3 linked regions of the Homo sapiens genome follow. The protein of the gene in region 1 purifies or fractionates together with the protein of each later gene. This does not show direct contact. Each region holds a gene or a part of one and is shown in the gene's direction. Other genes may lie near its edges. The genes, in order: PRPF39, KCTD15 and ZNF318.

The links.
Region 2: the proteins of PRPF39 (region 1) and KCTD15 purify together in Homo sapiens (affinity purification with mass spectrometry; 2 studies listed by BioGRID and IntAct, with this or other methods). This does not show direct contact.
Region 3: the proteins of PRPF39 (region 1) and ZNF318 purify together in Homo sapiens (affinity purification with mass spectrometry; 2 studies listed by BioGRID and IntAct, with this or other methods). This does not show direct contact.

The regions. Positions count from the first base shown.
Region 1 is NC_000014.9:45,099,987-45,110,355, forward strand, and holds part of PRPF39 (pre-mRNA-processing factor 39), read left to right. Parts: intron 1-2,542; coding exon 2,543-2,710; intron 2,711-7,464; coding exon 7,465-7,630; intron 7,631-8,428; coding exon 8,429-8,536; intron 8,537-9,629; coding exon 9,630-9,794; intron 9,795-10,107; coding exon 10,108-10,234; intron 10,235-10,369. UniProt on the Homo sapiens protein: Involved in pre-mRNA splicing.
Region 2 is NC_000019.10:33,804,896-33,815,264, forward strand, and holds part of KCTD15 (BTB/POZ domain-containing protein KCTD15), read left to right. Parts: intron 1-1,963; exon of another isoform or gene 1,964-1,967; coding exon 1,968-2,112; intron 2,113-6,351; coding exon 6,352-6,657; intron 6,658-6,895; coding exon of another isoform or gene 6,896-6,907; exon of another isoform or gene 6,908-7,894; coding exon 7,895-8,053; coding exon of another isoform or gene 8,054-8,477; 3' UTR 8,478-10,369. UniProt on the Homo sapiens protein: During embryonic development, it is involved in neural crest formation. Inhibits AP2 transcriptional activity by interaction with its activation domain.
Region 3 is NC_000006.12:43,338,247-43,348,615, reverse strand, and holds part of ZNF318 (zinc finger protein 318), read left to right. Parts: coding exon 1-292; intron 293-5,736; coding exon 5,737-5,940; intron 5,941-6,404; coding exon 6,405-6,504; intron 6,505-7,707; coding exon 7,708-7,826; intron 7,827-8,113; coding exon 8,114-10,369.

The DNA.
Region 1 (10,369 bases):
ATGAGCCAGGCACAGTGGATCACTTGAGGTCAGGAGTTCGAGACCAGTCTGGCCAACATGGTGAAACCCTGTCTCTACTTAAAATACAAAAAAATTAGCTGGGCATGCTGGCAGGAGTCTGTAATCCCAGCTTCTCAGGAGGCTGAGGTAGGAGAATTGCTTGAACCTGGAAGGCAGAAGTTGCAGTTAGCTGAGATCGTGACATTGCACTCCAGCCTGGGTGACAGAGCGAGACCCTGTCTCAAAAACAAACAAACAAACAAACAAACAAACAAAACAAAACACAAGCATATGGAAGCACTGTGTGTTTTGTATGGGGCATTGTCAGTTGGCCTATGGTGTTTCACAGTAGTGTAATCATGTGGCCACTCTTTTTGCTGGTGGATTCCCAGTGATAGTAACCTTATATCTTATTCCTGAGCCAAGCAGTTTGTTTAGAAAAGGATAATTTTATTTACTTGGGGAATGGACACCTAGCTTCTGAAATCCCCATAGCTGGGCGGGAAAGTTGAAGATTTCTCACGATTCATTAAGTATACCTTCTTCTAAACGTTCTGTCTTCATTTCATTACCTTCTTGTCTTCTTCCCCTTTTCTCCATACTTTTTTCAGTGTCTGGTTAATTTTCTGAATCATTTGGGGTTCTGTAGGGACAGTAACATCTATTTTATTCTTTTGAAAACCTTACACCAAATATGCACATGCATGCATGCACAGACACACATGCTCTTCAATCTTTTATTTCTATATTAAACATATTTCCTCCAATGTTGGTATGTTTTTAACTTTGTTTATGGTGTCTTTTATCATATGGAGTTTTATTTTTCCTTAATGTGCTTCTGTTTTAATTCTTACTGGTTCCTGAGTTTTGTGCCTATTTTACCAAAAATATATAAATCCTGTATTTTGTTCTAACTTTTCTATAGTTTTTTGCTTATTCATTTATCTGAATTTAATTTCTATCTGTCGTGAGATAGACATTAGCCTTTTATATACTCCCACTGTTGAATTAAAGTATCTCCTATATCATACACCAAATACTCACACACATTGATCTCTTTTTTGTTTTCTTGGCTCTGTACTGTTCATCCATTTTTCTGTTACCTGGCCAGTGCCAAACGTGTAATTACTATAGCTTCCTAGTTTCTTATATTATCTTTCAGGAAAATGCCTGCTGCATTATCCTTTTACAAAGTCATTTTGCATTTTTGTATTCTAGATGAATAGTAGAATTTGATTTTTTCTTGTTCCACTAAACATTTTTTAGCGCTTTATTGAAATTGTGTTAAAATTGTGGTTTAACTTAGGGGAGTGTAGTTTTATACTTTTTAAAAATCTCTCTTGATTCTAAGATACTTATCTTGAAAGTATGTATCTAAAAGCTTTATCCCATTGGAGTATTAAATCCAGTGATTAAAATTGCTTACAGAAATCTCTTGACATGACTAGGTATTTTAAAATACTTTGTAACAAACTTTTTTTTTTTCTTTGGAGACAGAGTCTTGCTCTGTCATCCAGGCTGGAGTGCAGTGTTGAGTGGTGCAATTTCAGCTCACTGCCACTTTCGCCTCCCAGGTTCAAGTGATTCTCATGCCTCAGACTCCCGAGTAGCTCGGATTACAGATGTGCACCACAACGCCTGGCTAATTTTTGTATTTTTAGTAGAGATGGGGTTTCGCCGTGTTGGCAAGGCTGGTCTCAAACTCCTGGCCTCATGTGCTGGAATTACAGGTGTGAGCCATCGTGCCCAGCCTGTGATAAAACTTTAATGATAGAATTTTAGAATTGAGAGGGGCTTTTGAGAGGTTTAAAGTATATGTATACTTTTTTTTTTTTTTTGAGACAGAGTCGCGCTCTGTCGCCCAGTCTGGAGTGCAGTGGTGCAATCTTGGCTCATTGCAACCTCCGCCTGCCGGGTTCAAGCAATTCTCCTGCCTCAGCCTCCCAAGTAGCTGGGACTACAGGCATGTGCCACCATGCCTGGCTAATTTTTTGTATTTTTGTAGAGATGGGGTTTCACCATGTTGGCCATGTTGATCTTGAACTCCTGACCTAAGGTGATCCTCCCGCCTCAGCCTCCCTAAGTGCTGCGATTACAGGCATGAGCCTGTAATCACGCCTGTAACCATTTCACCATGCCTCATGAAAATATTCTTAAATTGAGATAAAATTTGCCTCTCTTTAACTTCCTACTTGTTTTAATTTTGTCTTCTGTCATAAATCAATCTATACAATAGACATTTCAGATTTAACAAATACTTACATGTCTACTCTTACCTATTTGCAATGTGTACATTTTGTATTTAATTTTCTATTTGATAAAGTTACATAAAAAGTACATTTATCTATTCTCTTTGTTTTCTCACTCTTTTTAAGCAGCTGTTGTATGCTTTCTGTTATTCTGTCTACCCTTTAATCCCTACTTGCATAGGAAGCAGTTGAATATAATTTTTGAAGTTAGCATTATCTTCTAAATTTAGAAATAATATTTTAAAAGTGATTTTATCTTGGAAAGATAACTTAAGAGTAATTTAATTTTTCAGAACTTTTGAGCATGCTGTTCTAGCTGCAGGAACAGATTTCCGTTCTGACAGACTGTGGGAAATGTATATAAACTGGGAAAATGAGCAGGGAAACCTGAGAGAAGTTACAGCTATATATGATCGTATTCTTGGTATTCCAACACAGCTGTATAGTCATCATTTTCAGAGGTAGGTGGGAAATTCTGATCATTGAAACATCTTTGATTACTCAGATAGTTGGTAATATTAAGTATTATAATTATCTTGGAATGTTATGTAAGCTTTTATTATGTGGAAAGAGGAATAAATTTTGTTGCTAATCACAACCTACATGCTTGCTTTTGACATTTTTTCATATGCCTTATGAAATGTTTAGAAATTTTACTGTTTTTAGATAGAAGTTTCTCCTTATTCATTTTAATGGATAAAGAGAAACAGGAATTCTGTCTTGTCTAAGGTAGTTCAGAGTAATGAAGGAATGAGAAAATAGTACCTAAGTTGAGTTATTTATTTATGGCATTAAATTGACACAGTGCCTGGCACATGATAGATGCTTATTTTTTTTGAAACTTAATGATTTGCTAAATATACATTATTGTGATTGCTATAACACCTTATATCCAAAACAGTGAAGGATGCATTTTATATAGTAAGTAGTATCTATTTTCAAACACTCAGGTATCATTCCATTTTAATTTTCTAAAATGATTTTTCTGTTACAATTGGTATCCTTTTATTTTAATGATTACTGTTAAAACAACTAATTCTGTGTCATTATTTTTGTGTTCTGTTTTCTGCTTTATTCAGAGTATCCCATAAATAAGGATCCAGAAAGTCTTTCTGAACGAGTATGAGGACTGTGTCTTTGCTTTTAAATTGGCATGTTTTCTATTTTTTGTTATAATTTTTATGAGTAGTATTGTATAAACTTAGTATTTTCTATTTTTTGTTATAATTTTTATGAGTAGTATTGTATAAACTTAGGTACTTTTTAAGTGAGTGATTTTCTAAATTTTTTTTTTAGTACCAAAAGTAGAAGACTTTTATGAAGCATTTGTAAAGTACTAAGGATCAATGTGCTAAAGGTAGAAGTTATACAGACTCAGGTTAGAAATAGGAAGCATATAGATAGGAATATTCTCTCTGCTCTTGATGAAATAGAGGAAGCAGGCAGGTTTCTAAGGTATAACGACCTAGGAAGACACTTGCTGAAAGATGTTAACACAAGTAAGAATTGGCATATGGAAATGCTTGGTAAATAGTTACCAAACACATAAGTACAAAAGTACTTAAATTACCTGATGGGCCAAAGAGGGTGTCTTTTCATAGACTAGTTCTTCTGTGATTTAAAGTATAGGAAAAATCTATGACTACAAGAACTTTACTGATGATGGAAAAAAAATATTTGTAGGAAACACACATAGCATTTTCTATATCCCAGACACTGTGCTGAGTGCTTTGTAACTCACTTAATCCTCCCAGTAACCCAGTGAGGCAAGTACTATTGTTCCCATTTTATGAAAGGGGAGACACAGGGAGATTAGCATATTTATCTAAGGCCACAGAGTTTGTAAGTGATTGGAAGCTACTTGGAACTTAGACAGTATGGCCCTGAAGTTTTTGATATGTTCTCCTACAAATCTTTTTTATTTCTAAATAAATATCCCACTAGGCTTTTATTTATTTATTTTTCTTTAAGTTGTCAGTTACCCTAGGCTTTTAAAAATGCATATATACTTACAATAGATATTAGTGGGATTATATTACACATACTGATCTATAATCTGATATTTTTCACTTAATGCATTTAGAACCACTTTCCTTATCAGTTATAGTGAACTCACAAGTAATCTTTATGCAGTTCTTATAGTTTATATAAGTTAATTCACATGACTAACTGCTTTGAGAACCACTGAATGTTTTGTTTTTTTTTTCCATAACACATGCCTCTTTCTTAAAGTCATTTATTTAGCATTTGCTGTGTACCTGTTGATAGGCTATTTAAGTTGTAGGAATGAAGGCCCAAAGAAGCCATGTGTAAATAGCGTTGCCTGTGAGTTGGTCAGAAGGATAGAGGAGGAGGCGTGTGTTAAAAAAGATATTCTAAGTGGTATACAGTAATAATGGAAATATTTTTATTGTGCTTGTGCATTAGGCTTGTACCATTGGATGTACCCTGCACATTATCTCTGAGATAATGTCTAATTTAAATCCTTCTTTAGCATGAGGACTTTGTGATCTGGTCTAACATCCAGGTCCAATCCCTGGTGGTTCCTGAGCTCTAGACACACCTAAGTCTGATAACTTCCCAAAGGGCAGTGTTGTTTTATATCTTTATGACTGTAATACCTTTTCCTCTTTCCACTTGTCTAGTGGACTTATATTCCCTGAGACCACACAGTTTTGTGTCTTCTCTGTGAAATTTTCTCTGGTTCTCCTATACTGAGATACCTAGTCTGTTATTTGTGCCATGACTTTACCTACATTTATTTACATTTATATTAGCACCAGTAACACTGCTTTGAATTTATGTCTCTTATATCCTCAACATGCCTGTCAGTTTCTGAGGCTTAATTCTTTGTATCTCTAATATTTAGGAATAGAGCTCAATATATATTAGGCAGTCAGCCAGTCTTTACTGAATAAATGTTAGCTTTATAATACAAAAAACTGCTGAAAAAATACTGCTTAATATTATGCACATTTTGTCACTGTTTTAAAGAAGTTGTTACATGATGTAGCAATAAGTCATTTTAGATTTATGTACTGTATGTAGTTATTTTGAAATTTTACCTTAAGTTTTTAATTCATTTGTTGACCATTCTGAGTTTTAATATTCATCTGTAATTAAATCTGTTTTTTCATACTACATATTTGAGAGTTACTTCCTTATTTTTAATTTTTTAACATAAGGCAATCTTTGTTAATTTTTTTCCACCTGGTGCTGAAATGGGCCGTTAGCCTCTGTATCCATTGACTTTGCAAAATTTAAATTAGATTCCAATGTTATTTATATACTTTTTTTTTTTTTTTTTTTGAGGTGAAATCTCGCTCTGTTGCCCAGGCTGGATTGCAGTGGTGCAGTCTTGGCTCACTGCAGCCTCCACCTCCCAGGTTCAAGTGATTCTCCTGCCTCAGCCTCCCGAGTAGCTGGGATTACAGGTGCCCGCCCCGACACGGAGCTAATTTTTGTATTTTTGGTACAGATGGGTTTCAGCGTGTTTGCCAGGCTGGTCTCAAACTCCTGACCTCAGGTGATCCGCCCACCTCAGCCTCCCAAAGTGCTGGGATTACAGGCGTCAGCAGGCGCCTGACCTGTTTGCTTACTTTTTAGTAACATTTCTGATAGTAGTATAGAGGTGGGAATGGGAGTTGTGAGACTAGAGGCTGCAAGGTCATTTTATGTTTATCCAGCTTAAAAGTCCCGAGGTGATGAACATGTATTTAAAAGGTACAGTCAGTAGGACCTGGTATCTAATGTAAATGAAAAGCTAGGTGGAAGAGATTGAGAGATGTAGTGGTTGACAGTACCATTAATCAATATTAGAAATGCTGAGGGTGGCGGGGCACGGTGGCTCACACCTGTAATCCCAGCACTTTGGGAGGCTGAGGCGGGTGGATCACCTGAGGTCAGGAGTTCGAGACCAGGCTGCCAACAAGGTGAAACCCCGTCTCTACTAAAATTAGAAAAATTAGCTGGGCGTGGTGGTGCGCACCTGTAATCCCAGCTACTTGGGAGGCTGAGGCAGGAGAATTGCTTGAACCCGGGAGGTGGAGCTTGCAGTGAGCCAAGATAGAACGATTGCACTCTAGCCTGGGCAACAGAGCAGGACTCCATCTCACACAAGAAAATAAAGAAAGAAATACTGAGGGTATTCATTTTCAGATGAAGATGCCATACTTATTTTAAAATATTTCATATTTGAGGTTCCAAAGGTATATTCAAATTGTGATAGTGTAGATATTTTAGCTCCTCAACCTGGTATTTTTGATTACAATTTGTATGTATACAAATTATTGCATGTTTTTATAAAATAGTGAAATGATATTTTTTTCAAAAATCTTTTTATAGATTAGCTTAAAACTAATCCACATTTCTTTGTGCAGAGTATTGGCAGTTGTATATGCTAATGTGATTAGGAGAAAGGTTTGGACTTGTGTTGTAGTTTTGAGAGTCATCATGGTATACTTATTTCAAGCTGTATGAATGAGATTGGCCAGAAGTATGTATTAATAAAAATAGATGAGAACCAAATGGAGAGTGGAATACTTGGGTATAGTAGCATTTAGGGCAGGTAAGAAGGGGAATAAGACATAGAGCAGCAGTCAGAGGCTTGGAGGACCATACTACAAAACAAGTGTCCATTTAATTTTATATATGAGGTAATTGATAATCTTAATTGGGCAGTTTCATTGGATTTTTGCGTACTCACATGTGGATGAGGAGTATTTGGGAGGTGGGAAGGAAATGCTATATTTGTTGGTTATTTACAAGTGATCATTTAGAATTTAAATATGGATTACAGTATTTAATTTTACTGTAACTTTTATGTCTTTGTAGTAAAATAGATTCTATGACACACGAATAGGTATTATCATCTTATTTTACAATTGAGGAAACTAAGATTTAGAGAAAAGAAAACCTTCCCTAGTCAGATAACCAGTAACAGACAGAACTGAGGTTTGAATTTATGCCCGTCCATGCCTTCTCCATTCCACTGTAAAGGTAGGAAGAAATTGAAGATGTCTATAGACTGTTTTATCATATGGTAGTGTTTTATCATATATGGTAGGATTTTACTATAGAAAAGAAGGAGAAAAGGTATGATATTTTGGTTTCTTTTTTAAATCAAATCCTTTGAAAGAGTAGTATATAGTAGGAATCTCAATATGAGATCTAAAATTATGATTCAAATACATATATTTTTATTGTCTTCCTTTAGATTTAAAGAACATGTACAGAATAATTTGCCTAGAGATCTTTTAACTGGTGAACAGTTTATTCAGTTGCGAAGGGAATTAGCTTCTGTAAATGGTCATAGTGGTGATGATGGTCCTCCTGGTGATGATCTACCATCGGGAATTGAAGACATAACCGATCCTGCAAAGGTAACCAGTCTTATTCTAAAGTTCGTCAGTGGCCAGGTATGGTGGCTTATGCCTGTAATCGCAGCACTTTGGGAGGCCAAGGTAGGCGGGTCACCTGAGGTCCGGAGTTTGAGACCCATGTAGGCAACATGGTGAAACCCTGTCTATACTAAACATACAAAAATTAGCCAGGTGTGGTGGCACATGACTGTAGTCCCATCTACTTGGGAGGCTGAGGTGGGAAGATTGCTTGAACCTGGAAGGCGGAGGTTGCAGTGAGCTAAGATGGCACCACTGCACTCCAGCCTGGGCCAAAGAGCAAGACTCCATCTCGGGGGGAAAAAAAGGTCTTTAGTGCAGAAGAAACTGGACCTGTTATCCCTTGACTCCATGAGTGGCACAGTGATCACTTATATAACTGGCCATTTACCCAGTGACTTGTAGCTTGTTTGAAGTTAATTTCTGATTAAGGCAAGTGGGGATTCAGTAGCTTGTATGTATAGATTTAAGGTAGAGAATCTATTTTACTACAAGACACCCCAAAAAAAACTTAGCTTAGAAGGAATATTTTGCCTAGGTTGTGTATCTACTAGCCCAATTTAAGAAAAAAAGAAAAAATATGAAAGTGGTTAATTAGGAAGTTGTGTGATAAGTTTTAGTGTTGTTAATTGGATTTTGCACATAATTGCCAACAGTTAAAAATCTACCACTATTCTAAGACTAAAATATCTGTGAATAATACTTAAATATAAGCAGTGATATTGAAAATTTTCAGTATACAGTTTGTGAGATTTATTTTTTTCCCTTTTTCTTCCCAAGCTAATTACAGAAATAGAAAACATGAGACATAGAATCATTGAGATTCATCAAGAAATGTTTAATTATAATGAGCATGAAGTTAGTAAAAGGTGGACATTTGAAGAAGGTGTAAGTGTTTTTGTTTTGTAATAGTCTTTAAAATACAAAGTAGGAATAATTTATTTTTCTTTCAATTTTGATAGTACTATCTCTGTTGTAACTTTATTTTTGCATATTTAAGCCATAACTTCAGATGTTTGTCTCATTTATTGTAATCATTATCAGTTTTTCCATTTTCCCTGATGAGTTTTAGAATGTTTGAATCCAGATTTACTTGAATTGCAAGATATCTGCTTAATCTGAACAATTTTATTCTAATTGTTCAATTTTTAAAAGTCAACTTCTTGGGGTTATACTTTACATACATTACAATTCACCCATTTTAGATATATAGTAAAATGAGGTAATTTCCCACAGTTTTAATTCTTTGGTTTTTTTTGACTGCTTTACTGAGATATAATTCACATGCCATATAATTCACCCATTTAAAGTATACAGTTCAATAGTTCTTAGTATATTCACAGATATGTACAACCATCACCACAGTCAATTTTAAAACATAATCACCACCTCAAAAAATAACACCTTAACTTTTAGTTGTCACTACCCCTACCTCCTCAGCTGCGACCCTCTACCCCCAGTGCTAAGATACCACCAACTGCTTTTTGTTTCTGTAGATTTCCCTATAATGGCCTTTCATATGAATGGAATCTTAGAATATGGAATCATTTCACAGATATATGTATATACATTGTAGTCATCACAGCAATCAAGATACAGAACTCTTTTAGCACTCCAAAGGTCCCCTTGGCCCCTTTCCAGCCAGAGTTCCCCTCTCCACTCCTAGCACTAGGCAGCCATTGATCTGCTTTCTGTCACTATGGTTGTTCAATTTTAAAATATTCAACAAAGTATAAAATGTTCTGTACATTAAAAAGCATGTAATTGGCAAAATGGCAGAATAGAGAGAAAATGTATTATTTCATTTGTTTGTAAAGCTTAAGGAATTTAAGGGTTAATTTTAAAAGTTTTTTAAATTATGAAATATGATTAAAAATTTTAATCATCAATTATATTTAAAATTATTTGTATTAACACTGTACATGTGCATATTTTGGTGATATTGGTTTACTTTCATTGGCATGTTACAATTTCATTTCAGATTAAAAGACCTTACTTTCATGTGAAACCTTTGGAAAAGGCACAACTAAAAAACTGGAAAGAATACTTAGAATTTGAAATTGAAAATGGGACTCATGAACGAGTTGTGGTTCTCTTTGAAAGATGTGTCATATCATGTGCCCTCTATGAGGAGTTTTGGATTAAGGTAAGAAAATCATGTGCTCTTAAACTTGAATATATTATAAACATTGATCTAGTGACTAACCTTTTTTGTACTTCTGTTGAATGTTGTTCATATAACTATATCTGTTGCATTAGGAGATGGTCTGCTTGCAACCAGATTTGACTGCTGCATATGCCAACCTCGTTGCCTCTCTTCGTCCTTCCTTACAGAAACTAGTCTAGTGGTTCAATAAAGGTGCTGAATGGGTTTAAAAATAGAATTTTATCGTTCTGTCACAAATTTAATGGCTTGTTCAACTGTAAATTATTCAGTATTTCCTCTTTTCTGTATGTAGTATGCCAAGTACATGGAAAACCATAGCATTGAAGGAGTGAGGCATGTCTTCAGCAGAGCTTGTACTATACATCTCCCAAAGAAACCCATGGTGCATATGCTTTGGGCAGCTTTTGAGGAACAGCAGGGTAAGAGTGGAGAAATTCAGTTGACATTTTTGAGATTTTAAGTTATTTCAGGAAACAGTGACAAATTGAGTGGTAAGGGATGGTGTAAAGCAGAGTTTGGCAAACTTTTTCTCTAAAGGGCCAGATAGTAAAAGC
Region 2 (10,369 bases), on another chromosome or scaffold:
TCCCCATGCCCATCCACGAGACAGCCTTGCCCTTTTCTTTCTTTCTTTTAAGCGACAGCGTTTGTCTTTCTTGGCCAGGCTGGAGTACGTGGTGTGATCTCGGCTCATTGCAACCTCAAACGCATGGACTCAAGTGATCCTCCCACCTCAGCCTCCCAAGTGGACTACAAGTGCATGCCACCATACCCAGCTAATTTTTAAATTTTTTGTAGAGATGGGGTCTTGCTGCGTTGCCTAGGCTGGTCTCGAACCCCTGGCCTCAAGCAGTCCTCCACCTTAGCTTCCCAAAGTGCTGGGATTACAGGTGTGAGCCACGGTGCCCAGCTAAACCGTGCCCTTTATACTACCCTGCTAGGAGAGAAACCTGCACCGTGTTCCCAGAGACTCCATACCCGGGCAGACCATCATGGCTGATGCATTGAGTGTGCTGGGCCATCAGAGCATAGGATGGTGTGGACGGGAGGCCCTGAGGGCAGACTTGGGGGCTCTGACTCCCTCAGCTCCTGCCCAGCTAGTGTGTCCTGGGTGCAAGTGGCAGTGGGGCAGGGCCCTGGAGACGGCTGACTTGGAGTGGACAGAGGAGTGGGCTGCTGTTAGAACAGGGGGCATCCCTGCAGGGGTCCCTGCTGGTGCAGGCAGAGAGTGAGGGGCTTAGGCTCCAGATTGTGTGCAGGCCGGGCTGGGAAGCCTAGGTCCCAAGTTGGAGCTACTGTTCTCCCAGCTGTGCAGAGAAGCTGCCACCTTGGCAGGGTCCAGCTGGGCAGGAGTGTGGCCCTGCCTGCTGAAGGATGTGGTGGTGCTGCCCTTGGGGAAATGATGCCAACTTCCCTCCTGTTCCCAAACCAAGCCCTTGGCTACTCCCACCCCTCTTTAGGGTTCCTAGTTATCCCTAGCTCGACCTGGGGTCTGCCAGGGCAGTTGCCAAACCAGAGCTGGCCACCCTGGGCACTGGGGAGGTGGTATCAGCCCTGGCTCTGAGGCCTGGCTCCTTCTCCCCGGAGTGGACAGGGACAGGCATCAGGGGCTCCCCAAGACCCTTCTCCTGGTCTTGCATTTGTTAGAACCATTGCCCTTCAGAGGACAGGGTACCGGCACCTGCCTTCTCTCCAGTCCCCATCCGCCACCACTAGGTGTGGTGTGCATACGCTCTGGCATGTGTGCACATATGTATGCACTGTGGTGCATGTGTGTGCATGGTTTCTGTGTGCGTGTGTGTATGCCTGTGTTGTGGCATGTGTGCAAGGGCCCTGTTGCATGTGTGTGCTGTGGCACACTTGCCATCCCTCCTGTCTGCCTCTGTTTCTCCCTGTGGGCTCCCTGAGTGAGCGGCAGTAGGGGATTTGTGCCGTCATGTCTCTGGGTGCCTGGTGTTGACAGGTGTGTGTCCTTTCCTGGATGTGTCTGGATCTGCATGATATGTGTGTGTTGGGAAGGAAGGGACCATGTGACCCTGTGCCTGTTGCACAGGCCTGTGTGTCTCACACTCGTTTACATGGGTTGGGTGGGGAGGATGTATGTCCTGGCTCGTTTACTGGGTGTGTGGCTGTTGGCCGGGGTGTTGGATGGTTCATGTGCATTTTCTGGGTGGGTCTATCTGGCAAGGGTGTGTGCACCAGGCCTGTGACCAGCTGGTTTGTGTGTAGGGGGTAAGGTGCCTGTGTCTTGCTATACCTTTCCAGGCCTGTAACATAACGTGTGTTGGCAGGCTGGTGTGTACAGCTGGGTGTGTCCCTCTCTGGCTGTGACTTGCGGGTGTAGGCAGGATGTGTGGTGTGTCCTGTTAACTGTAGCCTGGCTGCCCCAGGTGTGTGCAGATGTTGTCAGGCCTGGAACAGTTCCAGAGTCACCCATGTCAGGTCCCTCGCCCCTCCAGCCGTGTGGGCCCTCAGGAGTGGGGGCGGGGTGTGGGAAGACAGGCAGACTTGTCCCCATCCCTTCAGACATCCCACCTCGCCTGTCTCTCCCAGGATAAGCCGCCTCTTCAATGGCACTGAACCCATCGTCCTGGACAGTTTGAAGCAACATTATTTCATTGACCGGGATGGGGAGATTTTCCGCTACGTCCTGAGCTTCCTGCGGACGTCCAAGCTGCTGCTTCCGGATGACTTTAAGGTAAGTCCATGGCTGGTGGCCCCCCTGCACTGCCTGTGTGATGGCATTACACAGGGGACGCTGTGACTTAATAAGTGGACCCCTGGTTGTCATGGTAACCATAAAAAGTTAAACGATGAAGCCGAGGGCTAAATCAGTTTTTCTAAACTAATTTTGTTTTCTCACATTTTTAGCTTATTTATCAGGGTATATAACAACAATCAAGCTGCAGAACGTATCCCAGCTGAACATTTGTCGTGTTTAAGGATGGGCGCGTGCCAGCGTTATAGTAGTTAGAGGTTCATAAATCTGTTCCATCGGCTGGGTGCAGTGGTTCATGCCTGTAATCCCAGCACTTTGGGAGGCCAAGGTGGGTGGATCACTTGAGGTCAGGAGTTCAAGACCAACTTGGCCAACTTGATGAAACCCCATCTCTACTGAAAATGCAAAAATTAGGCCTGGAGCGGTGGCTCACGCCTGTAATCCCAGCACTTTGGGAGGCCGAGGCGGGTGGATCACCAGGTCAGGAGTTTGAGACCAGCCTGGCCAAGATGGTGAAACACCGTCTCTGCTAAAAATAGAAAAATTAGCCAGGCGTGGTGGCAGGCCTGTAATCCCAGCTACTCGGGAGGCTGAGACAGGAGAACCACTTGAACCCAGGAGGCAGAGGTTACAGTGGGCCGAGATTGCGCCACTGCACTCTAGCCTGGGCGACAGAGCAAGACTCCGTCTCAAAAAAGAGAAAGAAAAGGACGGCTGTAATTAGACTTCAAAAAATAAAGTATAAAAAGAAAAATGCAAAAATTAGCCGGGCATGGTGACAGGTGCCTGTAATACCAGCCACTTGGGAAGCTGAGGCAGGAGAATCTCTTGAACCCAGGAGGTGGAGGCGGAGGTTGCAGTGAGCCGAGATCACGTCACTGCACTCCAGCCTGGATGACGGAGCAAGACTCTGTCTCAAAAAAAAAAAAAAATCTGTTCTGTGTTGGGCAATTTGCAGGGAGAAAAGCCCTGATGACCAAACAGATACCCTTTAAACAAAAGGTTAACCCCCAGGTCTCCGGGTGAGCCCGTCAGGGCAGGTGACCTGGTTCCCTGGGTCATGCCTCAGTGCTGAGCCCCTCCCACATGTCAGGGACTCTGGGAGGAAGGAAACTCAGGCCTGGGGTACACTGGCATGTATTAATACTAGCAAATGTCTGTCCTTCCTTCCTTCATTCCTTCCTCTATCCAGAGGACCAGTAGCCCTGGGGCCTTGTCTTTCATCCAGCTCAGTTACTGAGTGCCAGCCTCTGAATTCAGGCTGAAAACAGTGAAACACACACACTAGGACCTGCCCCACAACACTTAACAGTCTAGCGGGCAGACAGATACTGAACTTGAAGTCCATGTGACCTGGGCTGGGCGGGTTTGAAAGAAATGATGTTCATCTGGGTGGTGAAGGCAGAACGGGGCCAAACAGGTGTGAGGGCCTTGGTGCAGGGGATGGGGGTGGCAGATGGCTTGATGCATTCCAGAACTGGAAAGAAGGTGTCAAGCCTGGAGCTTTATGGACTGGGAGGGGAAGGTCAGGAAAGGAGGCTGCTGTTTGATGTCAGGACCTTGGTGGGTGGCCCAGTGCCTGGCATTTAACTCTGAATGCAGTGGAAGGGGTGTGTGCAGGGGAAGGGCAGTCAGATCTGCAAATTGGGAAGATCTCTCTGGCTGTTGGGTGGGGAAGAAGGCAGAGAGGGGTGGGGGTGGGTGCAGTGAGGCAATTATGGATGAGGCCCCTTCCCCAGGCCAAGGGAGGCTGGGTGGAGGCTTTGGATGGACCAGGATGGAGATAGAGAAGATGGAGCAAGGTGGCACATCAGACTTCTGTTTAGTACAGGCACAGTGGCTCACTTGGTCATCCCAGCACTTTGGGAGGCCGAATGGGGAGGATCCTTTGAGGCCTGGAGTTCAAGACCAGCCTGGACAACATAGCAAGATGCTGTCTATACAAATTTGTTTTTTAATTAAAAAAGGCCGGGTGCGGTGGCTCACACCTGTAATTCTAGCGCTTTGGGAGGCCGATTTAGGTGGATCACCTGAGGTCAGGAGTTCGAGACCAGCCTGACCAATATGGTGAAACCCCATCTCTCTTAAAAATACAAAAATGAGCCGGGCGTGGTGGTGTGCACCTGTAGTCCCAGCTACTCGGGAGACTGAGACAGGAGAATTGCTTGAACCCAGGAGGTGGATGTTGCAGTGAGCTGAGGTCACACCACTGCACTCCAGCCTGGGCAACAGAGCAAGGTTTCATAAGTAAATAAATAAACTTTACTTTTAAAGTTTTTTAAGAGTAATTTATTTACTTTTCATAAGTAAATAAATAAACAAGCAAGCAAGCTGCAAAAGCACGTGGCTGTGGTAGTGTAAAGGGCCTCTTGCAGGTGCCCCGGGACTTGTGGCTTGAATTCTGAGTTGGTAAGTTGAGGCCCGGGGTGGACCAGGCTGTGGGAGTGGGGTTTCTGCCCCTGCATGGGAGAGCTGGTGGGGCATCAGATGGAGAAATCCTGGGCCATGACAAAAGATGGGGTTGTCTGTCATGCAGTTGTCATTTAAAATCTCAGGAGAATGGCCAGGAGAGGTGGCTCACACCTGTAATCCCAGTGCTTTGGGAGGCCAAGCAGGAGGATCATTTGATCCCAGGAATTCCAGACCAGCCTGGACCTTGTGTCTACAAATAATTATTATTGTTATTATTATTATTATCCTGGCATGATGGCTCATGCCTGTAGTCTCAGCTGCTCGGGAGGCTGAGTCAGGAGGATCCCTTGAGCCTGGGAGTTCAAGGCTGCAGTGAGCTATGATCACATCACTGCACTCCAGTCTGGGCTACAGAATGAGACCCTGTCTAAAGAAAATAAAATAAAAATCTCAGGAGCAAGTGAGAGTGGAGAGAGCAGAGGCCCAGGATAGAGCCCTGAGGAGCCCTTGCATGGGGCAGGAGAGGCAGGATGGGCCACTGACCCATGACAGGCCCAGAGGTCAGGGTTAGAATCTAGGCCTCCCTCCAGGCGGCCAGCAGGTGGAAGGGACTTAGGGCCTGTAGGTCAGGGGGCTGGGCTTCCTTGCCTCTTCCTCAGGCATGAGTCATGGGGACCTATGGGACCTTGGCCATTCCCAGTGGGGTGGGTGTGTGTGAGCGTGTATAGTGTGCATATGTGGCCCAGGGCATGGGGCCAGTATCAGCGCCTGAGGGACAGTCTGTGCGAGGCTGCTTAGCCCAGAAGGGGGCTGCGTGGCAGGGGGCGGGCTTCCCCTCCCTGGACACTTTATCACACTCTGCCTGTTTGGGCAGGGGCTGGACCAGGCACTTGGCACATCTTGCATCCTTTGATCCTCACTTTCATTCTCTGAGCTGGTTGTTTATGTCCATTTTATACATAAGGGAACTGAGGCCGGGCGCAGTGGCTCACGCCTTGGGAGGCCGAGGCAGGTGGATCACATGAGGGCAGGAGTTCAAGACCAGCCTGGCCAACATGGGAAAACCCCATCTCTACTAAAAACATAAAAGTTAGCCGGGTGTGGTGGCAGGCACCTGTAGTCCCAGCTACTCGGGAGGCTGAGGCACGAGAATTGTGGAGTTTGCTGTGAGCCAAAATCGAGCCACTGCACTCCAGCCTGGGTGACAGAGAGAGTCTGTCTCAAAAAACAAAAACAAAAAAAAAAAACAAAAAAAAACGAAAAAAAAACCAAGAGGCTCAGTTAGTGAGGTATAGAGGTTTAGAGGTCTCAGGGCAGGTTGATGATGAAGCTGAAAATCTGACCCAGGCAGGCTTGGCTGGAGAAGAACTTTTTTTGCTTCCGGGTAGGCTGTGAGCTCCTAGGCCCGGCTGCCCTGTGCCCAGCATGATCTCTTCTCTCGGTGGGATTCTAAGGCAGCAGCAGGTCCCCAGGCATAGGCACAGCCTCGTCCTTTAGTGGAGCTTCCAGGTCTTTCCATGGGGAGGCTTCACTGCCCAGTGCCTGGGGCCAGATGGAAGGGCTCAGGGGGGCTGGCACAGGTGCACATCAGCGGCTGCCCTTGGGACAAGGCTAGGTTCTTTATACTTGCAAACCACTCAGTTGCCCCATCTGTACAATGGGTGCAACCGGCCCAGTCCACACAATACCCTGCGAGTCGCAGTTCCTGCAGAATTGGTTGGAACCGGCAGGCCGCCTCCCCTCTCCCCCTTCCCCCACCACCCCTACTCCGACACCCACATCAACACCCTGTGCGCCTGTCCCCAGGACTTCAGTCTGCTGTACGAGGAGGCGCGCTACTATCAGCTCCAGCCCATGGTGCGCGAGCTGGAGCGCTGGCAGCAGGAGCAGGAGCAGCGGCGCCGCAGCCGGGCCTGTGACTGCCTGGTGGTGCGCGTCACGCCCGACTTGGGCGAGCGGATCGCACTCAGCGGCGAGAAGGCCCTCATCGAGGAGGTCTTCCCCGAGACCGGAGACGTCATGTGCAACTCCGTCAACGCCGGCTGGAACCAGGACCCCACGCACGTCATCCGCTTCCCGCTCAATGGCTACTGCCGGCTCAACTCGGTACAGGTGAGGGCTGCACGCTGCCCCCTCCCCGCCGCACCCCCGGCGTCCGCGGAGCCCTCCAGGGGCAGAGTGAGCTGGAGGGAGGCGCGATCCCTGAAACGGTGAAGCCCCCCGTGCCATCCTACAAAAAAGGCAACAATGTGTCGATGCATAATTTATGTCCCTCTCATAATTAAATGATGGCGCCTGGGGGATGGACTTAAAAAAATCGATCTGTACTTTTTTTTTTTTTTTCCAAAAGGATGTTCTATAAAAATGGCCCAGAGTATTTTCAACAAAGCGTGCTTCATTTGACACCCAGAGTCTGACTTTGGATTCGAACTAAACCCAGGCAACAGGCGAGGCAGGACAGAGGCTGAGTGGAAAGGTGGTCTGGAGCCCCTTCCCTCTCCCTGCTGACCTGGGAGTCGCAGGCACCCACCAGCTGCCAAGAGAATCCCTGGACCGGCTCTTCCTGGATGGGTCCAAGAATTGGACAGCTCAGATGGAGTGAGGGCCTATTTTCCAACAGCTCTTCGCAGACCCAAGAGCTTGGCACATTTCCGGGTTAGGGTGGAATGGGCTTTGCAGGGAAGAGGGCCCCCTGTGCACGCATTCCACAGCCTGTCGGTCAGAACTTGCTAGTTGCAGGAGACGGGTGTTACACGCAGTCATCAGACCTCACCCTCACAGAGGCACAAACCCACATAGTTGTGGACGCCTGCAGAGACTCAAATATTGAGAGGACTTCTCCTTTTTCTCTCCCTCCAGAGCTCCCACGAGCTGATGCACCCCCAGGCTTCAAACCACCTGGAATGCACAGCTCAGGGAAGCTGGTGGATGCCTAGAGGCTGAAGGACAGGGAACTCTCCATTATTGGGGCAGGACTCAGGGAGGACACTTGGGGCCATGTGTCTGGAGAGAGGGCATAGGTTACACCCTACAGAATAAAGAAGGGACCCAAAGCCTCTTTTTGCCTCCCGGAATCAAGGCCCTGAGGGCAGCAGGATGGTGGCCTGGGTGGGGTCGTCCAACTAGGTTTGCTAACCTGAGGGGTCACTGGGCCTGGCCACTTCTGTCCCTCTGGTGGTGGAACCCAGCACGTGGTTCTGTAGGGACCTTTGTCAGTGAGCAAGACTGAGATCGTCACAGGAGAAGGTGCCCTTGCTGGCTGCCCCAGCAGGCACCCACCTCCCTGCCAGGCCAAGCCAGGTGTCCTCTTGCAGCTTGGCCTTGATGACCTCTGTTTCTTCCTGGGCAGGTCCTGGAGCGGCTGTTCCAGAGGGGTTTCAGCGTGGCTGCGTCCTGTGGGGGCGGTGTGGACTCCTCCCAGTTCAGCGAGTATGTGCTTTGCCGGGAGGAGCGGCGGCCGCAGCCCACCCCCACTGCTGTTCGAATCAAGCAGGAACCCCTGGACTAGGCCCTGCTTCAGTGCCCACCTGGGCCCCCCCAGGGACCTGGAAACAGTGCTGGGGAGTTCTGCCTGTGTATACTTGGCCGTGGGCATGAGACCGAGGGTGAGGCTGGAGGGTCCAAAGCTGGCCCAGCGAGCACCAGGGTCCCAGGTGTCATGGCAACAGAACGTGGGATGCTGGAGGCATGCCTGCAGAAGGACTGTTGATGCGACCCAAAGATACAGCGGTGGGATCTCTGCTGCCAGCTCTCCCAGCCCCTCAGCTTCGCAGCCTGGCGCAGCATCCTCTGAGGCCCCGGGGCCTGTTGGGGCGGGGTTGGAAGAGCCGTCTGCAGCTACTTCAGAGGAGCTGTTTATCCCTCTCCACGCGGGGCAGACTCTGGCGGGTCTCCTAGCGTCCGAGAGATGGCTTATTTTCTACAGTATTTAAAATGGATGCAGCCCTAACTGCAAAAGTCAGAGAGGCTGACAAGGACCAATGCTTCTTTATCTGGTGCTCAGTTCTCAGTCAGACGTGCAGCATGGCTGCAGGGTGGACCAGCTGCCTGGCATTCAGGCCCAGATGCCTGCAGGGCTGGGGCTCTCGGGACAGATGCAGGGATGTGTGCTGCAGGGCTGCTGGGAGGAGAGTGGTGGGGGCCTGAGGGCTGAGTGATTCTGTAACCACCTGAGACCTTCACGTTTGCTGCCGTTGGGGGCTCAGGCTGCACTCCCCGGGTCACCTGACCTGCTGCCCAGGGGCTTCCAGTCCTGTCTGTGTGGACTGGCACCTGGGCTGCTGGAGAAGTCTCCTCCCGTTCGGACCAGCCTCAGGGCTGCACGTTACCTCAGGAATGGGCCCCACCATGAAGGGGCCCATCTGTCAGCAGCGTCTTCTAGGTCCCCAGCTCAGGGAGCCATCCCCAGCTCCAGTTTTCTCATGCGAATATGCACAGTTTTAATTCACGTTGTTACACTAGCCTGCCGATGAGACCCAGACACAGGCAGACCTGGCGCTCTTGACCCCTGATTCCAGTGAGGACTGGCCCTGAGGAGTCCTTGCAGACCTGCTGCCTCCCCCACGACAGGCCCAAAGATGGACCCCCCCTGGCCTTGTGACAGCTCCCCAAGTGTTCTCCGGTGGAGAAACTGCAGAGGACTGGTGGGCGGGGCTCCCCAGCCATCACCATCCTGTGTACAATGGCTGTAGACTTGTATATGGCTCCTTTAATATTGTAAAGATGCTGATGTACAATTGTCGTGCATTTGTGTGAACACATTGCGTTCCCAGTCCATGCCATAAATGATGCTCTCAAGCAAAAGACTGGAGGCTCTGTCCTGTGCAGAAGCAGCAGCCAGACTCCCGCATTCGATGTTGTGCAGGGAGGTTTGGGGGCGGAACGGATTCCTCCCTTGGATCCTTCAGTTCCCATCGAGGAATAACCCGCAGCAGTGGTGGAGGAAGGTCAGTGGCTGGGTCCTGAGCTTGGTGTTATTTATTGCATTTGGGTGCCTGTCCCCTCAGGGCAGCACAGATTCTGAATTCTGATTCACAGTCCCTAGCCAGATGGGAACTGGGAAAGAGACAGAAGGCGTCTGGGTGCTTTTGAACCCTGTCTCAAATGTTTGGGATTTTCTCTCTCACTATTCTTTGGTTGGGGATGATGTCCTCTTTAGACCCCCACGTAATGGTATGAGAAGGTGGCAGGCAGTGGCTCAGCCAGCCAGGGGGCACCAAGTCATGCAGCCAGCGTGAGACCTGCAGTTCACCTAAGCACAGAACGAGATCTCAGTATGCCTCCATGTAAACAGATTCACATAGGCCTCCAATTTCAATGAGACCTTTTGCATTTTTTCTCAAAGCCCTTATGTTCTAACCCATGAGAACCATTTTACCTGCCCTCTAAGGGCCACCAGCTTCGACCTGCCTCAGGGGACAGCAGCACAGACCAGTGGCTCCCTGTCCAAGGCCGCAGAGCAGACGCCATCCCACTGTACAATCGAATTTGCTGGACAAACTTGATAGGTTTCTCTGCTTAGCAACGAGCCTATAGTTAGTTGGCACATCTGCGTTTTGGCATCTGAGGCTCCCATCTGAGTGGAGGAGAAAGTGTTGTGTTTATTAGCAGGAAGTCTTGTGAAAACAGCTCGCTGCTGTGTATGTTTATGGATTTTTCTGATATAACAGCCAGCATGGTTACCGAGTGGTAGAGATTCTCGAACATTCTCAAACTCTCTTTTTGGGTAAATGATTGTGCTAAAAATAAAATTTATTAATAAAGAAGGGGAAAAAGGAGTAACTCTACCTGACTAAATGTTACTCTAATTTATTTATTTCTTTAC
Region 3 (10,369 bases), on another chromosome or scaffold:
GCGCAAGAAACGAAGGGAGAAGGATGGCCACAAAGATCCTCTCTTGGTGGAGGTGAGTCGGCTTCAGGATAACATTATGAAGGACATTGCAGAGCTACGGCAAGAGGCAGAAGAGGCAGAAAAGAAGCAATCTGAACTGGACAAAGTGGCTCAGATCTTGGGAATTAACATCTTCGATAAATCCCAGAAGTCTTTAAGTGACAGTAGAGAGCCTACAGAGAAGCCTGGGAAAGCAGAAAAATCTAAGAGCCCAGAAAAAGTGTCATCGTTCTCAAACTCCTCCTCCAACAAGGTAACAACTCAATTTTTCCATTTCTATCATCTTTTTTTTCCCTTAGACTCCTATGGTTTTCTAACCATTTTCTTAACTTAGGTTTTCAAACTGTTCTTACTCTTGTTAATTATTTTCTTACAGTATAGATCAGAGTGTGGTACTCCTCTTCAGAATTTCAGCATAGTTCCTTGTTGCCCACAAAGAATCCTAAATCCTCAGTATTCAGAACCTTCTATGTTCTTGTTCCAGCATTTACTCCCTAACCCACTCCTATCTGGCTTCTGATCTTCTCAGAACTTGTATATACCCTTTTGGGGGGTTCATATTTAGCAACTATGTTCATGTCTAGGTCACTACTGTGTTGCTAAAGTCAGTAAATACATTTTACTTCTCAAATGAGCAGCATTTGAGGCCAAGAATCACTTTCTCCTACAAATACTCTTTTCCCTTGGCTTCTGTCACACTTCTTTTCCTCGTAGTACATTGGATGCTCCTGCTTAGTATCCTTTGCTGTCTCTCTTGCATAATCTTTAAATTTTTGAGTTTCTCGGGGCTCAGTCCTTGCCAGAATTTGCTCTTTCTTCCTAGGCCATTTCATCCAGTCCTATGCTAAAATGCCATGTGACAATTGCCAGTTTTATGTTCTAGTCAAATGAGTCTTCTGAGTGTCTAACAACGTAACTCACCATTTCCACTTCATTATCTCATAGGCACTTGAAATTGAGCATGTCCTAAACTAAATTAATGGTTGTGCTCAACCTCCTTCCAACTTTTTCTTTCTCCATTGTTATGCATTCTCAATGAATGGCATACTGTCCGACAGTTTTCATGCCAACAACTTAAAAGTCACTCTCAGTGCTCTGCTTTCCCTAACTGCTCCATATGCAATCAATTACAAATTCTGTCAGGTCCCTCTCCAAAGTAAATCTCGATTCCATGCACCTTATCATCTCCATTGACATTCAAGTCCAAGCCACATCAGTTTTTGCTTATGTTGCTGTGTTAATTAACTCTTTTTGCACATATAGCCAGTGATCATGATACTTAATCCCTTGCCTACCTCCTCAACCTCATTTCATGCCTCTTTCCTTCTTGCTGACTGTAGTTTCATTACTAACCTTTTCATTCCTCAAATGTATCATCTCCTCTCGTGACCTCACATTTTCTGTTCCCTTTCTTTACCATGCAAATCGAACTCTTTCCTTATCTACTCTTCTAACTCCAATTCATCCTTTAGATTGGATCTTAAATTACTTCCCTGACATCCTTCTCTGATTCCCTAGACTGTTAAATTTGCCTGATATACACTCCCATAATATCTTGTAATTTTCCTTCTTAACATTTATGACAGATCTGATTTTATAATTAAATGTGTTCCCCTAATTTGATTTTAAGGTTCAAAAGTTACAGGGACTTTATATGTGTCATTGTTCAATATGATTCCCAATATATAGCCCAGGGCCCAGCACATAGTAATGAATACTGCTGAAGAAACATTATATTACATCTTACGCTGCGTCACCTCAAAATGCAATTTTCCGGATGTGCAATATCTGGTATTACACCTCTCTGGTTTTGCATAAATAATCCTATTAGCCTGGAATAATCTTTCTCCCAACCCCACTCACCCATTAAAGCCCAATTTGGATACCACCTCTTCCATGAAGAATTTCCAGAATTCCACCCAGATCTAGTCAGCCTTCTTTAGCACTCTGTAATTTGTTTCTTTGTAAAATTTATTTCGTTGTCTTATTTAAAGACTCTTCTTACGTCTGTCTCCACTAAATGAGAGCTGCTTTTTTTTTTTTTTTTTTTTTGGTTAAAGATGGGGTCTTGCTATATTGCCCAGGCTGGTCTTTTGAGACAGAGTTCTTGCTCTGTCACCCAGACTGGAGTGCAGTGGCGCAATCTCGGCTCATTGCAACCTCCGCCTCCCAGGTTCAAGCAATTCTTCTGCCTCAGCCTGCCGAGTAGCTGAGATTACAGGCACGTGCCACCACGCCCGGCTAATTTTTATATTTTTAGTAGAGACATGGTTTCACCATATTGGCCAGGCTGGTCTCAAACTCCTGACCTCGTGATCCGGCCTCCCAAAGGGCTAGGATTACAGGCGTGAACCACCCTGCCCAGCATTTTTTTTTTTTTTTTTTTTTTTTTTTTGAAACAGAGTCTTATTCTGTGGCGTGTGGCGTGATCTTCGCTCACTGCAACCTCTGTCTTCTGGGCAATTCTCCTACCTCAGCCTCCTGAGTAGCTGGAGTTACAGGCGTGTGCCACCACACCCAGCTAATTTTTGTATTTTTAGTAGAGACGGTTTCACCATGTTGGCCAGGCTGGTCTCGAACTCCTGACCTCAGGTAATCCACCTGCCCCCGCCTCCCAAAGTGCTGGGATTACAGGCATGAGCCACTGCGCCCGTCCCCAGGCTGGTGTTGAACTCCTAGGCTCAAGTGATGATCCTCCCGCCTCAGCCTCCCAAAGTGCTAGTATTACAGATGTGAGCCACCCCACCTGGCCCGAGAGGATAAAAGAGGAATCTTTTTTATCTTTGTGTTTCCCATTGCATACAATATGTCTAGCACATAGTACATCCTCAGTTAATATTGAGAGGTAGGAAAGAGAATATATTCTGTGTTATCACCCAAGCTCTATTTTTTTCCATGTCTTCCTAGGAGAGTTTTCTTTCTCAACCAGGTAGGCCTAGTCTTTTATACCTGGGTCTTCAGTCTAGGTAGGGCCTTTGATGGGAGAAGAATTTAAAAGCTCTGGTCCTTTGTAATTGACTTATACATTGGATTTCTATTCATGTACGAACCCAATGATAATCTGTCATCTTGATTTGGGTGCGTCTTCATGGTCTCTGAAACTAACGGATATGTTACAATTCAGTTTTCATCTCAGCAGTAAGGAATATTATGTCCACAGCCTTTCTTTCCTACCTGTCCTTGGTATTTCTTCTTTCTTTACCTCTCTTTAAAATGTATAGTTGGTTTGAGATTTTCTTTCCCTTTCTGTTCATTTCAGAAAAGCACATACAAACTTGTAATTTCATCTACCTAGAGACAACTGTTATTATTACTTTTTTTTTTTTTTTTTGAGACAGGGTCTCACTCTGTCACCTAAGTTGAGTGCAGTGACACAGTCATGGCTCACTGCAGCCTCCAACTCTCAGGTCCAAGCATTCCTCCCACTTCAGGCTCCCCAGTAGCTGGGACTACAGGTGCTCACCACCACCACACTTGGCTAATTTTTGTATTTTTGTAGAGTTGAGGTTTCGCCATGTTTCCAAGGCTGGTCCCGAACTCCTAAGCTCAAGTAATCTGCCCACCTCAGCCTCCCAAAGTGCTGGCATTACAGGCATGAGCCACTGGGCCCAGCCGAGACCACTGTTATTAATACCTTGGTGTATAATATTATTAATACCTTGGTGTATGTTATTCCAAATACATACACCAAGGTATTATTATATATTCCAAATACATTAATTTATTATTAATACCTTGGTGTATGTTATTCCAAATACATACACCAAAGTATTAATTCTGTCCATCAATTCACTTAACAAATATGTATTGGTCACCAATAAAGTGTCAGGAACTGGTCTAGATATGGGAAGTATCACACTGAACAGTATAGACAAGGTTCATATTCTCATTAAATAGCAGAAGATGATAAATAAATAAGTCCATGTTAGGTAATGAGAAGTGCCTAAAAAAAGAAAACAGGATAAGGAGTATAGAGTGGTTAGAGAAAGTATTTTGGATAAAGTGATATTCAACGCTGTATGCCGATTTACATATCTTTGTTGATTATTCAAGTGTATTTTATTAGTTTTCTCAGTATATCATGAACATCTTTCCATGTCAGTAAATACACTTCTATAATACCATTTTTAACAACCTTATTTTTTGTTGTTTTGGTTGCATGGTTAAGCAAAATTTATTTAACCAATCAAATCACCTGTTGTTTGACATGATAATTTCCATAGGATAAATGTCAAGGAGTGAATTGCTGGGTTAAAGGGTATACAGTATTTTGAGGTATGTAATGTATTCCTAGATTATCTTCTAGAAGATGGTGCCAGTTAATACTCCCACCAGGAGTGTATGAACTCTCCCATCCCCTGCCTGTCTGGTGTGATTTCTTTAGTGATTCTTGAATAGGACTCAGGTAGGGAAAGAGTATCTTTGAAGCCCCAATTGTTTCCCTTTCTGTATCCTACCTTTTTCCCTGCGTGAGCCAATATTCCAGGTACCCAGCTCTTCATCTTGTGTACTATAGAACCCCATTCATAGTGAGCCTCTGAGTTGCAAAAATTATCTTTTTTTCCTGTGCCTTACTCCTGAACATTAACCAAAATTCTCATTTCCTGAGTGCCTTGTTCCAGCTTGGTAATAAATTAATTCATATTAAAGTATTTGCTGTTGATAACTTTAATATTAAGAAGTTGATATATTTTTAAAAAGGATACATGTTAACGGTGTTAAAATTTTTTTTTTTTTTTTTTTTTTTTTGAGACAGGGTCTCACTTGTTGCTGAGGCTGGAGTGCAGTGGCACAATCTTATCTTACTGCAACCTCCGCCTCCTGGGTTCAAGTGATTCTCGTGCCTCAACCTCCCGAGTAGCTGGGAATACAGGTGCACACCACCATGCCCGGGTAATTTTTGTATTTTTAGTAGAGATGGGGTTTCACCATGTTGGCCAGGCCTGTCTCGAACTCCTGGCCTCAAGTGATCTGCCCACCTCGACCTCCCAAAGTGATGGGATTACAGGTGTGAGCCACTGCACCTGGCCTCTAAAGTTGTTAAATTCTAAAAGTGATATTTTAGGCAGTTAGGAATGTTTTTCCTAGATTCCTTTAAATCATTCTACATAGATGACTTTATCTATGTGTAGTTGTATAGTCTACTTTATCTATGTACACCAACCCTTCTCTCCAGTTTTTCATACCAGGATGCATGTGATGAGTTCACTATCACCTATTTTCTGCATTTGCTTTGCTTAGCCTGTCAATTACCTTTTCCATATTGGTTTTTCTTCCCTCCCTAGCTGTCATGATTTTCAAATTTAACTGTTTAGTTGCATAGGTAACATATTCAACATTTACTAAAGGGTATACAGTGAAGAGACTCCTACCCATCCTTGTTCTCCACTTCCCTTCCCCAGAGGCAGCCAATGTTTCCACAACCTTGGCTGTTCTTCTAGAGATATTTTAGGATATGTAAGTAAATATATTGCCATTATGATTTACTTTTTATGCTGTGATAGCACTATGAAGTCAAATAGTTCTATGTCTTAGAGACATGTTTCTGTTAGGGTTCCCCCCAACTTGTGCAGCTTTAAACATTGGAAATATGGTCATATGGCCCTATTTCTATTATTATGGCCACTTACTATTTCTAACAGAAGACAAGTCTAGATTGCCTTGAATTCCTTGTAAGTACAGATTTTTCCCCTCTAGGAATCAAAAGTAAACAATGAGAAGTTTCGTACTAAGAGCCCCAAGCCTGCCGAAAGCCCCCAGTCAGCCACTAAGCAGTTGGATCAGCCCACTGCTGCTTATGAGTATTATGATGCTGGCAATCACTGGTGCAAAGACTGCAACACCATCTGTGGGACCATGTTTGATTTCTTCACTCATATGCACAATAAGAAGCACACACAGGTTGGTATCCTACTCTCTGTTATTTTCACTCCCACCCTCACTCTCTTCAAACTTCTATACCCCTATCTGCATTGCAAAGCTGGAAAAGGAAACATTCTCATATGGGCAGGAGCCCCAGTCTGAAGAGCCAAGAGACACCAACAAAGGAGACACCATCCCCAGGGCTCAGTCCAGGGGACTTGGCTGTAACTAAACACCATGACAAGTGTAAGTGAGGTTTCTGCCTCTTTTGATTCCTTGAGTACCTGATTTTTTTGTTTCATTTTACCTTTTTCTGGTACTTGCTCTAACATGTGTTTACCTTTTCCACAGGTGATTTCCATTAAAACAGTTGGCAGAGGGGGTGGGGGTGGGTAGCTGGGGGCTTCTGGTCCCCTGGTCTTATTATGGGGGAAAAAAAAGAGAAAAGTGGGTCATTGAGCTTTTAGTGCTGTTGTGTGAGCACCTCTGCCTCTTACAAATAGACACTGGATCCCTACAACAGACCTTGGGCTTCAAAGACCCAGAGTGAGGCCAAGCAAGATGCCATAAAGCGCACTGACAAGATAACTGTTCCTGCAAAAGGTATGTTTCCTTTTTGCCACCTTTGTGGTTTCCTTACATTCAGTTGAGGAAGAGGTGTCCCTGAACTAACATTGTAGGAAGCAGCATAGCATGAGACAGCCATTCCTTTTAACAAAGCCGTAGGAATGCCTTCTGTGTACAAAACAGTGTACTAGGTCCTGAAGCTATAAAGAGATCTATAAGACCATGATCTCTACCCATATGGCCAAAAATCTATTCACAGATGTTAAACATAGACATGTCACTTAAAACAGAATTGTCTTTGTCATTGGCTTATGGGCCCAAAATCTTACTTGTTTGGAATCCAGGTTAAAAAGGACAGGAGATGCAGTAATTTAACTGCCTTTTCAACTAAGAACTATACAATATTTTGAGTCATTGTTATTAAGGGGTAAGTGGAGAAGCAGAAACTTCCTTTGTCTTTAAACTTCTCAATTTCTTTTTTTTTTTTTTTTTTCCTCTGAGATGGGGTCTCTCTCTGTTGCCCAGGCTGGAGTGCAGTGGTGCTATCTCTGCTCACTGCAAGCCCCGCCTCCCGGGTTCACCCCATTCTCCTGCCTCAGCCTCCCAAGTAGCTGGGACTACAGGCGCCTGCCACCATGCCTTGTATTTTTTGTATTTTTAGTAGAGACGGGGTTTCACTGTGTTAGCCAGGATGGTCTCGATCTCCTGACCTCGTGATCTGCCCACCTCTGCCTCCCAAAGTGCTGGGATTACAGGCATGAGCCACTGTGCTCAGCCCATAAACTTTTCAATTTCTTACCTTCACAAGTAGCTAGTGCTGCTACTATACCCTTGAGATTTACAGAAGATAGTTTCCTCAGTAATTAATACCAACATGAGAGATCATCATAAAATGGTAATGGGCTATTTGGGAGTATAGTTTTTATATTTCCTGAGATGCTTGGTGCTAGTTAGGGTTTGAGGAGACTCAGCAACAGGAATTAATCTGGCACAGGAAACTCCTAAATTAACCAGTATAATGTTCCCAAGAGGTAGAAGAAATAGAGGACTGTAGTTCAAGCCTTAGGTTGGAAAGACTGTGCCATTGGGATTCATCTAAATACTGCTTCTGACTTCAAAGTGGGTAAGGCCCTCTATACTGTAACCATTTTACTGCAAAGGGGTGGTGGGATTTCCATTGGTTGCTGTCATTCTGGGTGGAATCGACTTATTTCCTTGACTTTTTTCTACTTCTTCCAGGCTCTGAGTTTCTGGTTCCCATCAGTGGATTTTATTGCCAGCTCTGTGAGGAATTTTTGGGGGATCCAATTTCTGGGGAGCAACATGTGAAGGGTCACCAACACAATGAGAAATACAAGGTTGGTCTTTGTAGTAGGCTGTGGAGTTTCCAACTTTTCTGAAGTAATTATTTTGACTTTGTCAAATGGCGTCCGAGCCAGAAAAAGCCATTGACACTTCAAATTCCATATAACCTCTAAGTTCTCCTCAATCCTAGTGGGAGATGCTCAGCAGATAGCATCCCGTATGTCCTTGAGGAAGATAATTCTGGGGATTTCTACTAAATGAATTCTAACAGTAGCGGGGCCAAGATTTTTTTCTCTTGTATTTTCACCAGTTTTTGAGTCTTTATCTTTTTTCTTCCCAGAAATATGTGGATGAAAACCCATTATATGAGGAGCGGCGGAATCTGGACCGCCAAGCTGGCTTGGCTGTGGTCCTAGAGACAGAACGGCGACGGCAGAGTGAGCTAAAGCGCAAACTTAGTGAGAAACCAAAGGAGGAGAAGAAAGAAAAAAAGGCAAAGGCTGTGAAAGAAGTAAAGGAGGATGACAAGGTCTCTGAGAAATTAGAAGACCAACTCTCTGAGGGTAGGAACTCCCCTGAAAAAGCTGAAAATAAAAGGAACACTGGCATCAAACTCCAGTTAAAAGAAGAGGTAAAGAAGGAATCACCAACATCATCTTCTTTTGGGAAATTCAGCTGGAAGAAGCCAGAAAAAGAAGAGGAGAAAAGTTCATTGGTGACCCCAAGTATCTCTAAAGAAGAGATTCTAGAAAGTAGTAAGGACAAAGAGGATGGCAAAACTGAAGCTGGGAAGGCAAAGCCTATCAAAATCAAGCTCTCTGGGAAAACTGTTGTTGCACATACCAGCCCTTGGATGCCTGTTGTGACAACTTCCACACAGACTAAGATCCGACCCAACCTGCCTATTCCATCCACAGTACTCCGCAAGTCATGTTCAGCCACAATGAGCAAGCCAGCTCCTCTTAACACCTTTCTGTCTATTAAGTCCTCTGGAACCACTGCTAAACCTCTGCCAGTGGTTAAAGAGTCTTCAGCTGATCTCCTCTTACCTCCAGACATCATCTCCAAAGCATTTGGAGGGGAAGAGGTGATTCTAAAAGGGTCTCCAGAGGAAAAAGTGGTGTTGGCTGAAAAGAGTGAGCCATCTCATTTACCTGAACAAATACTACCACCTCCTCCACCACCCCCACCTCCACCACCTCCACCACCCCCCGTTATACCTCATCCAGCTGCCCCGTCTGCTGCTCAAGCAAATGCTATCTTGGCTCCAGTAAAATCAAACCCAGTTGTATCTCAGACTCTCAGCCCTGGCTTCGTGGGTCCTAACATTTTGAACCCAGTGTTGCCTGTAGCCATCATGGCCTCAGCACAGCCAGCTGCCATTCCTTCTGATGAGACAGCTCCTGGGGTGAGTGAGAGTGACCGAGACCAGACCCTGTTCTCTGTGTTAGTACGTCCTCCACCACCCCTCTCAAGTGTGTTCAGTGAACAAGCCAAAAAATTAGAGAAGCGAAATTCATGCTTAGCCACAGCCAATGCTAAGGACCTGTATGACATATTCTATAGTAGTGGTGGAAAGGGGGCCCCTGAGACTAAGGGGGCCCCTGAGACTAAGCTAAGTGGTGGTCCATTGGCCAATGGGGAAAATAGCAACCTCTCTAGAACCAAAAGTTCAGACACCTCTTCTACTTCTCCTTTGAACAGCAGTGCATCCCAAGAGGAGTTGCATCAAGATGAGGGTTTGGTCGCTGCTCCTATAGTTAGCAACTCTGAAAAGCCCATTGCAAAAACTCTGGTGGCCCTAGGGAAATGGTCAGTTGTAGAACATGTAGGCCCAAAAAGCACAGGCAGCACCTATGGCTTCCTACAGCCTCTGACAAGGTTGTGCCAAAGCAGGCCTTATGAAACAATTACCCCAAAGACAGACACTTTGGCCATATGGACCTCTAGTTCCTTCCAGAGTGACACTAGTAGGGATATATCTCCAGAGAAGAGTGAGCTTGACCTGGGAGAGCCAGGACCACCTGGTGTAGAACCACCTCCTCAACTGTTAGATATACAGTGCAAAGAATCTCAGAAGTTGGTAGAAATCCACCTCAGAGAATCTGTTAACCAGGATAAGGAAAGCCAAGAGCTCCGTAAATCTGAGGATTGTAGAGAAAGTGAGATAGAGACAAACACTGAACTAAAAGAAAGGGTAAAGGAGCTGTCTGAGGGGATAGTTGATGAGGGAGTAAGTACCAGCATTGGACCCCACAGCATAGATGATTCTAATTTGAACCATGGAAACAGATACATGTGGGAGGGAGAAGTAAAACAGCCCAACTTGCTAATGATTGACAAAGAGGCTGAACAGTCCAATAAATTGATGACAGGAAGTGAAACTCCAAGTAAAGTAGTGATCAAATTGAGTCCACAGGCTTGCTCTTTCACAAAGGCAAAATTAGACTCATTTTTATCAGAAGCTAGGTCTTTACTCAACCCACAAGATACACCTGTGAAAATTTCTGCCCCAGAGTTGCTGCTTCATTCCCCAGCCAGATCAGCTATGTGTTTAACAGGTAGTCCACAAGAGCAAGGAGTTTCAGTTGTTAGT